Regions from separate parts of the Homo sapiens genome. Here region 2 is linked to region 1. The links come from fine-mapping of genetic effects on gene expression. Tissue or cell type: regulatory T cells. Region 1 holds a variant in brackets; the other region holds the start of a gene. All regions are shown on one strand. Distances are between the middles of the regions.

Region 1 (7,717 bases):
GAAAGCATTTTCTGTCTCCCCAGGGACCTGTTTTTTCCTCTAAAATCTGGCTTCTTACCACTCTTGGACACTCAGAGCCTGACATGGTTGGCTCCACCCCTCACCTCCTCACCACCTAGGAAGCCTCTTTTGAGTTGCAGCCACTCAGGCCTTCTTTCAACTCCTCAAACTCTTCATGCCTCCTCTGGCCACACAGTCTTTGCAGATGCAAAGTCTTTGCCCAAAACACTCCTCCCTTCCTCTCCTGCCTGGTTACTTCTGAGCTTGGACGTTTCTGTCTCAGGAAGCTCTTCCTTGGCCTGAGTTTTTACAGACAACCTTGTGCTCTGCATTCCATTTGCAATTTTACATTAATTTATGCAACTGTTTGGTTTCCATCTCTCTCTCCCAAGATTCTTAGCACCACGTGGCAGGAACATGTGTCAGTTGTAGCCCCAGTGTCCTCATGGTGTGTGACGCATGGCTCCAGCCTGGGGTGACACAGCTGAAAGGGGTGGAGTGGTGCTGGCCTGAGTTCCTCCACCATCTTCCTTGGTCCTCCTGCTCTCCAAACCCAGGGGCAGGTCCCCTGTCTCTTACCTTTGTCTCTGTCCACTCTGAACTCTGGGATCCCAGGAGTTGGTTCTCTATTCACCTGTGATCAACATGTTCCTCTCTGACTCTCATCTCCTCAACTGTAGTTTGGAGAGAATAGGAACCACCTCACATGGTTGTGGTGACAATTAAATGAGTTAATATGTTAAGGGCTTATCATGGTGCCTGGCACGTAGTAAGCACTCAATTAATGTTATCTGTTAGTATTGCTGTTGCTGTTATTGTTACTACAAAGCAGGAACAAACAACAGAGTATGGCTGACAATGTAGGGGCACGCGGTAATGCAGTGGTATATGTTATGAGTTGAACGGTGGCCCCCAAAAAGATATGTCCATTTCCTAACCCCGATACCCTGTGAATCTGCCATTATTGTAGATGTAATCAAGGATCTCAAGATGAGATCATCTGAGTGGGGCCTGAATCCAGTAAGTGTCTTTATAGGAGACAGAAAAAAAGACCCCTGAAGACAGAGGCAGAGGTGGGAGTGATGCAGCTGTGAGCCAAGGAATGTCTGAGGCCTGCACGAACTGGAAGAGGCAAGGAGGGACTCTGCCATAGAGCATTTCGAGGAAACGTGGCCCTACCAGCACCTTGATGTCAGACTTCTGGCCTCTAGAACTGTGAGCAAATTTCTGGCATTTTAAGCCAACCAGTTGTTTCAATTTGTTCCTGCAGCCACAGGAAAGCCACCTTCAGAGCAAAATGTTGCTGGCTAAAAATATCCCTGGACCAGGACAGTTGACCTATTAGCCGCACCTTAGGGAAGGGGGGAAGGGCAGGGGGTAGTGGCCCAGCACTGCCTTGTGTTGGTGCTACAGGGGAGCTCAGGCCTGAGGACCTTCTGGAGGCCAGGCGCTGGAGGTGCCCTCTTCACTGTGGAGGCCTCAGCAAGTTCCTTCCCCTCTGTAGGCCTCACCCCCACCCCCCACTTGGTGTTTTGCGTGTCTCTGTGAGTCTCAGGGATACAACACCCCCATGTGACCAAATCCTCTGAGGTCAGGTCTGGCAAAGCCAGGAGCAGCCTCTGGGGTGAAGCAGATGCTCACCTGCCGCTCCCTGCGCTGCCCAGGACTTCCCGGCCCAGACCTCCGGAGCTAACGGCTAACAGCTAATGTAGCCAGAAAATGAGCCCTCTCACTCTGCGTTCCCCTCTCCCCAGATAGACTTGAGGAGAATGGGATCTAGTGGCTTCCTTTCTGTGGGGTATTTCCAAAGCTTCCCTGCGGTCAGCTGAGGGGCACCAGGCAGAAGCATGTGTCTGGGCAACAGGTCCCTGTCTGTTGCCAGGCAAGCCTAAGGGGGTCCATGGAGGGCTTTGTGTCCAGGACCTCTGGGTGGCAACACCAGCAGGGCCAGCAGTTTCTGAAGGGGCTGCCCTCCCACACCTCCTCATTCCCACTCTAACCACATGTATGTGGTTATGGGCATGTGTGTGAGCAGGGCTGGGGAGGCAGGAGCAGCTGCTTGAGTGACACCAAGAACAACTTTGTGAACATGGACACGCCAGCTGAAAGGAAACCCAGGTTCATTAAGTCCAGTACTCTCATTATACAGCCAGAAAACTGAGGCCTGGAGAGAGGAGGGACTAAGGTTATACCTTGATCACCAGCTAAGCTGAGCCGGGAATCCAGGCTCCCTGTCCGCCCCTGGGAAGTGTGCGTTTACAATGCGCATGCTTGGGATAAGGCTGCCCTATGTGTAGGTTGAAGGGTTGCCGTGAGCCTATCCATGCAACAGTCCGTGCCTGACAGCGCTGGGTGTTCATTTGGGTTCACCCTGTGGGGACTATGTTTAACCTGATGGTTAAACCTTGAGAGCTGAGGAGGAGGAGGAGGAAGAGGAACAGGAGGGGTGGGCGAGGAGGGAGTTCGCAGCTGAGCAGGATCAGGAGAGGACCCTGGAGGACTGTTCTTCAGTAGATGGGCAAGCTCTGTTCTCTCGTGGGGACTTTCAGTTCTTCCCCTTGGGAAATTATTCTAGGCTCCTAACATGCCTCAGACCACAGATCTAAGACATACCTACAAGAGCACTCCAAGGAGAGTAGCGCCAACTCCCTCCCACCCCGGTGAGCACCGCCGGGTCAGCACTGTGGGGCGAGTGCTCAGAGCCCCAGACCAGATGAAGGACCAGCATCTGCTGGACGATGGACTCAAGTGTGCAGAATACAGTGCTAGGCCCTACAAGGAGTTCAGTAAAGGGAGTAAAGAAAACATAATTTACCATTTCTTTTTAATTTTTTTATTTTCTTTTTTTTTCTTTTTTTTTTTTTTTTT[G/TG]AGAAGAAGCCTTGCTCTGTCACCCAGGCTGCAGTGCGGTGGCATGATCTCGGCTCAGGGCAACCTCCACCTCCTCAGTTCAAGCAATTCTGCCTCAGCCTCCCGAGTAGCTGGGATTACAGGTGCGCACCATGCCTGGCTAATTTTTGTATTTTTCATAGAGATGCAGTTTCACCATGTTGGCCAGGCTGGTCTCGAACTCCTGACCTTGGCCTCCCAAAGTGCTGGGATTACAGGCATGAACCACTGCACCCAGCATAATTTACCATTTCAATGCGTTGAGACTCCAACCCCGTGGGAAACTGCCTGATATGAAAGCCTTTTCAGAAAGCTGGTAAATGTATACAGAGCTTCATGGCCTAAGTAATTTTCTGATAAGGGGTGAAAACACAGCGAGTGGTTTGGGTGAGGAAGGAGGAGGCAGGCTTGAAGCAGGACCTTCAGGAAGGGGAGGGGGAATGCCTGACCTTAAAGAGAGGGAGGGTTGTGCCTGGAAAGTACAGTGGTGAGTGCCAGGGGCCCAGGCCCTGGAGCCCCCAGCCTGCTCCACAGTCTGTGATCTCCCTTGGAGCTGCGAAAGCCTTTACTGGTCTCTACTGCGAGCCAGTTTTTTAAAAGGGACACATTGTCATTGTACATATTGTATGTACAAATTGTACCTACTGTATGTACAATTTGTACCTACTGTATGTACAAATTGTACATACAATATGTACAAAGTGTACATATTGTATGTACAAAGTGTACATAGGGTACAATTTGATGTTTCAATACAGATATGCTTCGTAATGATCAAATCAGGGAGGTAGCACATCCATCCCCTTATGCATGGGTCATTTCTTATAGGCAATGAAGTACTATTCAGCCATAAAAAGGACAAAATCCTGTCATCTGGAACCACATGGATGAACCTGGAGGACACCATGTTAAGTGAAATAAGCCAGGCACACATAGACAAATAGCCCATGATCTCACTCATATGTGGAGTCTTTAAAAAAAGTGAACTCAGGGCCGGGCGAGGTGGCTCACACCTGTAATCCCAGCACTTTGGGAGGCCGAGACAGGAGGATCACTTGAGGTCAGGAGCTCAAGACCAGCCTGGCCAACATGGCGAAACAGCATCTCTACTAAAAATACAAAATTAGCTGGGCGTGGTGGCGTGCACCTGTAATCCCAGCTACTCAGGAGGCTGAGGCGGGAGAATCACTTGAACCCGGAGGCAGAAATTGCAGTGAGCTGAGATCATGCCACTGCACTCCAGCCTGGGCAACAGACCCCATCTCAAAAAAAATAAATAAATAAAAATAATTTTTAAAATGTGAAGTCAGGAACCACCGGAGCATTCAGTGGTACCCCGTGGAGTAAAGCAGCTGTCACAGACCCTCCCCTGTGGCTTGACCTGTGCTGCCTCCCCTATTCCAGGATGTTTTTCCAGAAACAACTCCTTTTATCATTTGGTTCTGTCTTGTTTCTTGGGATGCTGTCCTGGAGTGGATTCTCAGTCACTCTCTACACTGCGTGTAGCTCCCCTCTTAGACTGGGTGAAGGAGGCACAGAGAGAGAAGGAAAGAAGCAAAACAGACTCCCAGCAGTGAGACCTTTTTCTATACAGGTTTTATGTATTTGAGTCCGGGAGCTTTCTTTTTTAATTGTGGTGAAATACATGAAACATAAAACTTACCACTTCAACCATTTTCAAGTGTATGATTCAGCGGCATTAAGTACACTCACAGTGCTGTGTAACCATCACCACTAATCACTGCAGAACCTCTTCATCCCTCCAAAAGAAACCCCGTACCCACGAAGCAGTCACTTCCAATTCCGCACCTTCCCCAGGCGCCGGTTGCCACTCATCTGCTTTCTGTCTCCGTGGATTTGCCTGTGTGTCAAGATGTTTTGATCTTTATGTTCCACTTAAAATGCAAATAACCATAGGAGAACCCACAATCTACACTTTCAATTCCATTAATTTCGACAATACCCACCCTTACCCACCTCCATAGTTTAGAAATTACTATTATTATCGTTTTAGAGACACGGTCTTGCTCTGTCACCCAGGCTGGACTGCAGTGGCTCAATCACAGCTCACTGCAGCCTCGAAGTCCTGGGCTCAAACAATCCCCCTGCCTCAGCCTCCCAAGTAGCTGAGACTACAGATGTGTACCACCACGCCTGGCTAATTTTTTGATGTTTTATAGAGACAGGGTCTCAAACTGCTGCCCAGGCTTGTCTCAAGCTCCTGGTCTCAAACAATCCTCCCACTTCAGCCTCTAAAAGTGTTTGGATTACAGGCATGAGCCAATGAGCCCAGCTAGAAATGATGGAATCCCTATGTGTTATGGGGAAAACACTAGCGTGGAAGTTCAGAGACCAGGGTTCTAGCTCATTCTGTCCAAAATTATGTGCTCTTTTGTGGATGAGGGTCCCTGACTCGCTTTAGGCCTTAACATCCCCATCCTGAGGCATGGGAGGTGGACTTGGCTAATCAATTCCAGGGCCCTCTGCGGCTCTGACCCTCTAATGCCATAGCAGCAGTCCCCTGACCTGGCAGAGCACAGGGTGGGTGGGACCTGCAGGACTGGGTGCCAGAGGAAGCCAGGCCTGGGGATGGGGGCAGCACTGGGGAGGGCTCAGACTTGACCTGCCTCCCCCACCACTAGGCCCGGGGCCAGCCCTGTCCACATGAGCTTCCTGGCTGGTTCAAAGCCCCAGGCAGACTCTGCAGGTGGGATGTGGGAGTCCCCATCATAATGCCTGCTCTGGGGTGAGCCTCCTGGGGGCCTCAAGCAGAGGCCTTCCTGGGCAGGCTGAGGCAGGACAGGGCAGAGCAGGCCTGGGGGCACAGGAAGGAAGGGACAGAGGTTGGGACAGGGCAGCTGCAGAGTGGGGTGCAAGATCCTCAACCCAGAGGCTCCCTAGGCCCCACTTGCCCCAGCTCTTGAAAGCCTGGTTCTGAGCTCTGCCAGGACTGGGGCTCAGCACTGCCCATGGAAACAGGCATGGCAGCGAAGAAAATCATAACCAAATATTTGTAGTCACCTCTCTCCTCCCTTCTGGAAAGGGAGGGTCCCTGGTTTGTGGGCTCTTGGCCTCCTGGACATTATTCTGTAGTGAAGGGAGAAAGGTTGAGATGCAGAGTTGGAGAAACTAACAGAGGCCAAACTGGTCCATTTGAGGAAAGATGGGGGATCCCAGGAGGGGAGGAGGGGACACCCTGGGGAACCGGGGGCCTTCTCAGGTGGTCCAAGTAGGGGAGGGCAGGACACAGAAAGTCAGAACATGGTTTTGAGTTTTGGAGACAAGAGAAAAGAGGGAGTGATTTGGACAACTGGAGAAGATCAGGCTGGGGAGAGAAATGTTTAGAGATTTGGAAGATAGTGTGTCGTGCGATGTATTGTGAAAACCCCTTCTTCATATCCGTAAAAAACCACCACTGATGATGCGTGATACAATTCAGTGCTTTTGCAGACGGACTGGTGCCTTTTTAAAATAATAAGAATGCATTGGCTTGGCTCCATCTGAATTAGTAGAGACAGACATCTTGAGCAGGTTTTATCAGTGTTCCATTAGCTAAATATTGGGTTTCCTATTTTGTGGCTTGGCTTAAACCACTTTGTAGGCCCTTCTGCACTGGAAGGCACCTCAAAAATCACCTCTTTGGCCTGCAGCTCCATGTCCCCAAACTCTTGGCTTTCCTAAATGAGTGGCCTCATTCAGAAGATAATACAGCATCCCTCATCTGAAAATCAAAATCCAAAACTGTTTGAGTGCCGACATGATGTTCGAAGGCCAGGTTCAAAGGAAATGCTCATTGGAGCATTTTCGATTTCAGATTTTCGAATTCCAAAATCTGAAAAAATCCGAAATCCAAAATACTTCTGTAATTGTAACCTGTAATAGCCATTGGGTCCTGACCTTCCAGCTGAGGCAGCCAGCAGTCAACAGAGGCTCACCATGCACCCATCCTGCCCCTCACCCTCCCACGGGCTTGTGCCTCACCCCCCAGCCTCCCTTGCATCTGCTGGGAAGGGGACACAATGCTTCTGCCCTGCCTTCTTGGATCTCAGACCACTGTGACAATTGCAGGATTCCAGCCAGGGAAAGTGCTACAGGTAGAGGTACTTAGTACTCTCCATAGAAAAGGTTCCAGCAATGGCACAGCAGCCCCGGAAGGGTCTGTGACAGTCTCCACTCCTCCAGCTCTGGTCCCTGCCTCTTAGGGAGCTTCTCAGCACTGCCCTCAGAGTCGGAGGGGGAGGTCCAAACCTCAGACTGAGGTACCTGCTTCTCCTCCTCCCCCATGACCTCCCTGTGGCCTCTGACCCCGCTGTGAAATGAGGGTGGTAATGTCTCCTTCAGTGGGCTGTTGGGAGGTCAGAGAGAATGGATACAAAGTGCTGCACACAAAACCCAGCACTGGGAGGTGCCCCATCCATGACACCGTGAATCCCTGTCCACAATGCAGTGCATGAGAAATTTCATCCTAAAGTCCTTGATTTTAAATGCAACACTTGAGTTTCTGAATTCAAGGTCCCTTTCCTGGGCAGTCAGCTGTGCCTCAGTGCTCTGGTTCTATGTGAAGTCAGGGGATTGGGATGCAGAGAGACACCTCGTCCTCAGTCATCCTTCCACCTTGATCACCACTGAGATATCCATCTTTTCTAGCCATTGTTTCTGTTCTGTGGCAGGCCTGGGATCACCCAGACACACCACACTGTTGCTGCGGGTGGCAGGAAATGTCATGGGAGAGGGTCAGGGTCCCCCTGGTGCCCACCATCTCCTCCCTCCCTCCTTCCCCTCTACTACTTGCTCCCCAGCAGCAGTGAAGTTTGGAGCTGCTGCTGGCTAC
Region 2 (7,717 bases), 87 kb after region 1:
ATTTTTTGTACAAAGACGAGGTTTTGCCACGTTGGCGAGGCTCAGCCCAGGGTTTCCTGAGCTTGGCAACCAGCCCAGGCCCATTCCATGAGAATATGGTGTGGAGGAAGGCACTGGTAGCTTTTCTTTTTTTTTTTTTTTTTTTTTTGAGACTGAGTCTCGCTCTGTCGCCCAGGCTGGAGTGCAGTGGCACGATCTCGGCTCACTGCAACCTCTGCTTCTCAGGTTCAAACGATTCTCCTGCCTCAGCCTCCCGAGTAGCCAGGACTACAGGCGCACACCACTGCACCCAGCTAATTTTTGTATTTTTTTTTAGAGACGGGGTTTCACCATGTTGGTCAGGCTGATCTCGAACTCCTGACCTCGTGATCCACTCACCTCGGCCTCCCAAAGTGCTGGGATTACAGGCATGAGCCACTACGCCCGGCCCCCTGGCATTGGTAATTTTTTAAGCTTCCAGGTGATCTACGTAGCAGCCAGAATGAGAGCCCCAGACACAGACAAAGATCATCTGTTCCCAGCCTCACCCTCTCTGCATGGGCTCTAACAGCCTAGGAAGGAGCTACACCTGGATCACCAAGTGAAACTCCTCACTCTGGCCAGCTGTGGCACCACCACAGGGACACACTCATCACCATCCTGGTGCCTGGTGGGCACCCCAGTGTCCACCCTGTGCCACACATCATGGCCCCCTAGGCAACTGCAGCGTTTCTGCGTTTTCCTTGGCTCAGCTGCCCCCTCACACTCCATACTCCCTCGGCAGCACTGTTAAGAGACAGTCCTGGCTGGGAGCAGGTGGGGAGAGGAGGGGAGGGGCAGTGAGACCAGTAACAGAGAAGCTAGGAACAAATGCCAGAGTCCAGGCGTGAGTGGGCCATGGTGCAGGCAGAGGAGGCCGAGGGTGAGAGGCATTTAGGAGTCATAACTGACTGGGCGATGGATGGATGAATTTGGAAGGAGGCCTGGGTAGGCCCCCACCCAAACTGGAAAACGAGGAGGAAGGTTTGCACAAGATCATGAGCTCGTCTGGAGAAGCACTAAGTCACTCACCACTCACACACACAGAATGCCAGCCCCCCGCGGCCACCTCAGCCATGACTAGGCCCTGCAACGCCTCCAACAGCCGTGGCTCCAGCTCTGCCTCCAGGGTCCCATGGCCCAGCTGTCCATGCCTGAGCAAGGGAGACCGTCGTCAGCTACAGTCGCATTAAGGGGTCCCGCTCCGCTTGCTTCTCCAATCAGCAGCCCTCACCTGCCCCCGCCTCCGCTCACCTGCCCCCGCCCCAGGAGAACACCTGGCCAGCAGCGTCCAGCAGCAACGCGTGCTCGGCGCCCAGCTCCAGCTGGCGTGCCCGCAGCTCCGGAGCCAGAGGCCGGTAGAAGGGCGCCCGCGGGCTCACGTAGGCACGGGCGCAGGGCAGCAGGGGTAGCCTCCCAGCCTGGGCCTCACCGGCCGGATCGTCTTCCCCTTCGGCCTCGGGCACCACATTCTGGGCCCACAATGGCTCCCCACGCAGCGCCGATTCGGCCGCCCAGACCTGCAGTAACGCCTCCGGCCCCGGCCCGGCGCGCAGCACCGCGAGGAGCCCCTCCGAGGCCCACGCGTCCTTGCAGCGGCCCGCCGCGCCGCTGGCTGAGCCCGACAGCTCCAAGCGGCCTCCACCTGCGGGGCGGATTGGAGCAGGGTGGCCAGAATGGAGGCGGCGGGGATGGGGGGAGCGGGGTGTTCCTGGGAAGGGGTCGAATTGGGGACCAACCCAGAATGTGGGGCTGGCGGCCTGAACGGGGGAGACAAACTGGACTGGCCACAGCGGTGCGGGGAGGCGACTGGGGAGCGCGGCTGGAATAAGTGGGGACGGGGCGGGGAGTGCTCACGGGTCACGAAAGCGGTGTAGCTCCAGCTCGCGCTCACGCGGCAGATGTCGACGCCCGCCCGCAGCGGACTGGGGCTGTGCACCTGGCGCCCGCGTCCGGAGCCCAGCTCCTGCCCGAAGCCGCAGAAACCGAAGCCGAACCAGGCCCCCGGCCGCTCCTCCGCCATGCCCGAGCAGCGCCCTCTGCCGGCCGCCGCCTGGCTGCGGCGGGCCCGGGGGGATTCTTGCGAAGAGCCCGCTAGTGGGACACTGGCAAGTCTCTGGCCTTCCAGGGGCTGGAGCTGCCTTATCTGTAAAATGGAGAAACTATCATTCTCCCGACCACAAAGGCAGAGTCCGTGCCACGAAGGTTCGCTGAGCAGGCGCCCTGACTAATGCCCTACCGGATTTACAAAGATGCTCAAATATTTAGAGGCACTTTCCCTGTCCTCCCTTTTGGCTCAAGCTCAGCGTGCCACAAAGTGGGTACGAAGTGGCCTGTCCTTTAGGCATTGGACTAGGATCCGAGCGCCCCCGACACCCCCACCCCGTCCCGCAGCTTCCCAGCATCTGGCACTTTATCCCATGTAATCTTGGGAACCAAAATGGTCGTTTTACAGAGGAGATTCTGAGACAAAGTAACCCTTACACACTCATACAGCCAGACAGAGAGGGGCAGAGCGCTGAAATCAGGTCCCACCAACTCCACACACAGTGCTCTGCCCCTCTCCCCACAGCGGAACGCAGAAGAGCGTTTGGGAGGCAGTGCCTCTGCAACTCAGCGGGGCCTTGGGACCGCAGCCAATCCACCTGAGTCCAACTGCGTTTCTTCAGTTTACAAAGGGAGGTGGGGGCGGTGCTGTTTGAACCTTCCTCACAGAATTGTAATAAATGCAAATAAAGGGTTTGGTGCGAGTACATGCCATGATAAACACACAGTATTAGCTTACTGAATCCAGTATTTAGTGTTGACAAAAAAATTATCCCTGGACATCTTACTGGTTTTGAGAAACTTATACAGACAGAATTTCAACTGTACCTTATCTAGCCATTTATTCGTCCAGCGAGCATTTACTGAGCGCTCCTCCTCTGCCAGTGAGGACAGCTGTCTGCTCCCAAGGAGCTAACCGTTAAATGGGGAGACAAACAGTCTGGTGGTTACAACAGCAACGCCAACTTCAAGCAGATTCGGCTGGAGCGGGTTTGTTTTTTTTTTTTTTTAATATAATAGAGACAGGGGTCTCGCTATGCTGCCCAGGCTGGTCTCAAATTCCTGGGCTCGAGTGATCCGCCCGCCTCGGCCTCCCAAAGCGTTGGGATTACAGGCGTGAGCCGCTGCACCCGGGCTGAAGCAGAATTGCATGGGCATTTTCAGGCCTCTTAAGTCAGATCCTGGGTCTCTCCTGAGACCCCAGTTCCTGGGCTCCTAACCCCTTCCGTGTCCTCTCCCAACCCAAGGGGGCCTCTGACCTTGATCTTGACCCTATGCCCTCTACCCTCTCGGGCAGGTCCTTCTGGTGGGCAGCCTTGGAGGAAACGCCGAGGCGCAGAGCGGCCGCCTCCGGAAAGGCCTCCCGCCCAGCGGGCGCCGACAGCCACGGGGAGAAAAGGTTTGAAGGGCGCGCGGCGCGAGGCGGCCAATCACCAGCAAGGGCGGTGACGTCGCCGCCCGGGGCGCGGCGGCCGCAGCCCTGTTCAACTCCCCTTGAGGGCCTCTCCGGTCCCGAGGCCTACGCCGGGGCCCTGCGGCCCGGTCTGTGAAATGGGCTGAAACCTCCGAGGGGCGTTGGACCAAGGCCCTGGAGGAAACCGGGGGCGTTGGACCAAGGCAGAGGTTGGGCCAGGTGGTCCCGCCCCTGCAGGAACCCGTGGGGCTGGAGCTCGGATTAGAACCACAGAGAGGACATTCATTAAGACTTGAGCTAAAGGTTTGGCGAGGAGTGACGCCCAAGACGGGCGGACCCCGCCACCCACCTCAGTCCCGGGACCGCGGCAGCTCAAAACCCGACACGCGCCGGACTCATGCCCCAACAGGAAGCAGCTTTTACCTTCCACGGATTGGCTCAGGACCCGTCACGTGCCTCTGTCGAGCCAACGAGCCTCACGCTGGGCTTAGCCCTCCTCGAACGTGCTGGGGTGGTGGGCGGGGCCCAAGCCGCCCTTCAACCAGGCTCAGCTGGCCACCAACCCCAACCCCCGCCCCAGCGCCCTCAGCGGAGGCCACAGAGGACTCCCAATATAAAGACAAACGTACTGAAGGCCCAGCATATGGGAGTCTCTACCCTAAACGACTTATTTCTTGGGATAGTTTAATATTTTTTGAGATAGGGTCTCGCTGTGTCGCCCAGGCGACACTTTGGGAGGCTGCGCTCTGGGCTCACTGCAACCTTCGCCTACCGAGTAGCTGGGATTACAGGTGCATGCCGCCACACTCTGCTCTTTTTTTTTTTTTTTTTTTTTTTTTGGTATTTTTATAGAGAAAGAGTTTTGCTTGTTGCCCAGGCTGGTCTCGAACCCCTGACTTCAAGTGATCCACCTGCCTCAGCCTCCCAAAGCGCTGGGATTACAAGCTTGAGGCACCGCACCTGGTGAGTTTCTTATTGATTAGCTTCCTAGGCTTACCCTTTGTCCCTCCAGTAGGATTAAGAAGCAACTCAGTGGGCCCTGGTTGGGGAATCCATTGGATTCCTTCCATGGAGGTGGGTCTGCCACTGTGAAGCTCCGTTGCACACTCACCCACGCCCAGCTCACACCCATACTCACCCACACTCACCCACTCAGAGACTCCCACTCACAGCAGCCCTCCCTGCCCAAGGACAGGGCACACAGTGGAGTTCTACACACTTTTATTGGAGGGGCAGGCCTGATAGCAGGCTCACAGCTGGTGAGGCTGCTGATGTGTGCGCCCTTCCAGATGCCCCAGGATCCACAGGCTGTGTTGGGATGCACCTTCCCCATTCCCAGCTGACTACAGTAGTACAGAAAAAGGGCCCCTCTGAGTGAGGCTGCAGGCAGTGCTGGCCAAGCAGGGCTGTGTGACTGAACGTGGCCGCTGACTCAGAACAGAGGACATCCTAGGGCAGCAAGCGAGGATGGGCAAGAGTATTGGGCATGCCAGCCACCACCAGCCAAAGCTGCTTCCGTCCTTACTCTCCGTGCCACAATAGGTAGCGTGTGCATGAGCCTTGGGCCCAGGGACAACCCCCTCACTCTCCATCTTGGTTGGGTTGGATAAGCCCATATTCCACTGCTTTGTCCAGGCAGGCTGCAGCAGCCCTTGTGACAGGGCTGTGGTCACCCTTAGCTAGCACTGACAAGATCTCCATCATCTCACTCTCCATCAGGGTGCTGGCAATCTCCCTCGAGGCCTCCACCATGTTCAGCACCACCACAGCACCCCGGTGCTGCAGCTCCTGGTTGGAGCTCAGAAGCAGGGCCTGCAGGATCTCCAGCCAGTGTGTGGTCTGTGAGAAAAACAGGGTAGATATGACCCCTGGGCAACAGGCTCAACCTTGGCAAGGGACACACCCACACACCCTAGGACTGCCCCCTTCAGCTGCTGCTGGGAGTTCCTGGTCCGTCCCTCCTCCCCCACTGAGAAGAGGCACTGACCACTTGGGGAATGCGGCTGCAGAGCGTGGGCCGCATGGAGGTAAGCATGGCCAAGCCCCCGGCAGCTGCCCGCTGTAGCAGCTCATCATCCTCTCCACTGTACAGCACCAGCAGCTTCAGTCGGTCATTGCCCTGGGCTTCGAAGAGGTCCTGCACCTGTGGCCAGATGTGAGGAGTGGACCAAGTCAGTTGGGTGTAAAGCCCAGCCAGGGCACAGGTACCTCTGCATCCCCGCCTGTCATGAGCACCCAGACCAACCCTCACCTCCTTGCTCATGGCCAAGTTACACATGCACTCCGTGGCTGCCCGGCGGATCATCTCATGCTCCTCAAACATGTAGCCTTCTATCATGGGCACAGCCTTCTCCTTCAGGATCTTCTGCCTGCAGGGCCACAGGAGGAAGCAGCAGGGATACGGTTTGGATGTTTTCCCTTCTAACCCTCATGTTGAACTATAATCCCCAATGTTGGAGGTAGGGCCTGGTGGGAGGTGACTGGGTCATGGGATGGGTCCCTCATGGCTTGGTGCTATCCTCGTGATAGTAAGTTCTCGTGAGATCTGGTTATTTAAAAGTGCGTGGCATCTCGGCCGGGCGTGGAGGCTCACGCCTGTAATCCCAGCACTCTGGAAGGCCGAGGCAGGCAGATGACTTGAGGTCAAGAGTTCGAGACCAGCCTGGCCAACATGGTGAAACCTTGTCTCTACTAAAAAGACAAAAAAAAATTAGCTGGGTATGCTGGTGCGCGCCTGTAGTCCCAGCTACTCAGGGAGGCTGAGGCAGGAGAAGCGATTGAACCCAGGAGGTGAAGGTTGCAGTGAGCCAAGATTGCGCCACTGCACTCCAGCCTGGGCAACAGAGGGAGACTCCATTTCAAAAAAAAAAAAAGTGTGTGGCACCTCCCCCGACTGTCTCTTGCTCCTACTTTCACCATGTGATGTGCCTGCTCCTGCTTTGCCTTCTACTATGAGTAAAAGCTCTCTGAGGCCTCCCCAGAAGCTGAGCAAATGCCAATGCCATGCTTACACAGCCTGTAGAGCCAGGAAGCAATTAAATCTCTTTTCTTTATAAATTACCCAGTCTCAGGTATTCCTTTACAGCAATGCAAGAACAGACTAACACCGGCAGCATCATCAGAGTTTCTACATCTGCTCCACCCCTGCACCCACACCCTCATGCAATCAAGTCCTGGGCTGAGGATTTCCCTTGGCAATGTCCAAGGACCCTCTTGCACCAGGTATGAACTACAGTGCTTCTTAGCCTTCTAACCAGGCCTAGGAAATAGCATAGGATTGTGGGAAATGCTCAAAATTAGGATGTAGAAGACCAGGGTGGTCGTGATGGTGAGGCTAACACCTAACATTTGAGGGTTTTTGTTTCTGTGTTTTTTTGAGGCAGGATCTCACTCTGTCACCTAGGCTGGAGTAAAGTGGCATGATCACAGCTCACTGCTGTAGCCTTGACCCCCCCAGGCTCAAGTGATCCTCCTGCCTCAGCCTCTCGAGTAGCTGGGACTACAGGTGCACGCCACCACACCTTGCAAATTTTTTTTCCAACTGTTAAGTTCAGGGGTACATGTGCAGGACGTGCAGGTTTGTTACACAGGTAACCATGTGCCGTTGTGGTTTACCGCACAGATCATCCCATCACCCAGGTATTAAGCCCAGCATGCATTAGCTATTCTTCCTGATATTCTCTTTAATTTCTTTTTTAAATAGGGACGAGGTATTGCTACACTGCTCAGGCTGGCCTGAACTTCTGGGCTCCAGTGATCCTCCTGCCTCATCCTCCCAAATTGCCAGGATTACAGGTGTGAGCCACCACGCCCGGCCTCATTTGAGTATTTACCCTGACCAGGCACCTGGATCATCTTACTTAATTCTCACCATGGCCCTATACTAAAGGTGCAAGTGTGATCATCATCACTACTGTTTTGCAGAATAGGAAACGGGCTAAGTAATGAGTAATATGTTCAAAGTCACAGTTAGTAATAAAACTAAAACATGCTGGCCAGCTGCAGTGGCTCACACCTGTAATCCCAGCACTTTGGGAGGCTGAGGTGGGCGGATCACGAGGTCAGGAGATCTAGACCAGCCTGACCAACATGGTAAAGCGCCATCTCTACAAAAATACAAAAATTAGCCAGGCGCGGTAGCACGTGCCTATAATCCCAGCTACTCAGGAGGCTGAGGCAGGAGAATCGCTTGAACCTGGGAGGCAGAGGTTGCGGTGAGCTGAGATCATGCCACTGCCC

The links. PIP is the estimated chance that this variant, and not a neighbour inherited with it, causes the effect.
Region 2: RCCD1 starts here. The variant in region 1 is fine-mapped to the expression of RCCD1 in regulatory T cells (Schmiedel 2018, PIP 0.95).

The regions. Positions count from the first base shown.
Region 1 is chr15:91,037,963-91,045,679 of GRCh38, reverse strand. No RefSeq gene overlaps it. Among named protein-coding and RNA genes, the nearest start is that of VPS33B-DT, 19 kb to the right of the region's middle. RefSeq lists an enhancer at 1,862-2,363. The variant G/TG (reference allele first, on the strand shown) is at 2,869.
Region 2 is chr15:90,951,059-90,958,775 of GRCh38, reverse strand. RCCD1 (RCC1 domain containing 1) reads right to left here and starts at 3,892. Exons shown (of 8, transcript NM_001017919.2): 1 at 3,828-3,892; 2 at 1,876-2,164; 3 at 1,273-1,663; 4 at 1,051-1,172. The coding sequence starts at 2,041. UNC45A (unc-45 myosin chaperone A) reads right to left here. Exons shown (of 20, transcript NM_018671.5): 18 at 5,730-5,847; 19 at 5,466-5,621; 20 at 4,683-5,317. The coding sequence ends at 5,060. RCCD1-AS1 (RCCD1 and UNC45A antisense RNA 1) reads left to right here and starts at 4,283. Exons shown (of 2, transcript NR_170325.1): 1 at 4,283-4,441; 2 at 5,571-6,538. RefSeq lists silencers at 1,766-1,815, 1,936-2,165, 3,396-3,525 and enhancers at 3,746-3,855, 3,656-4,210, 5,035-5,535.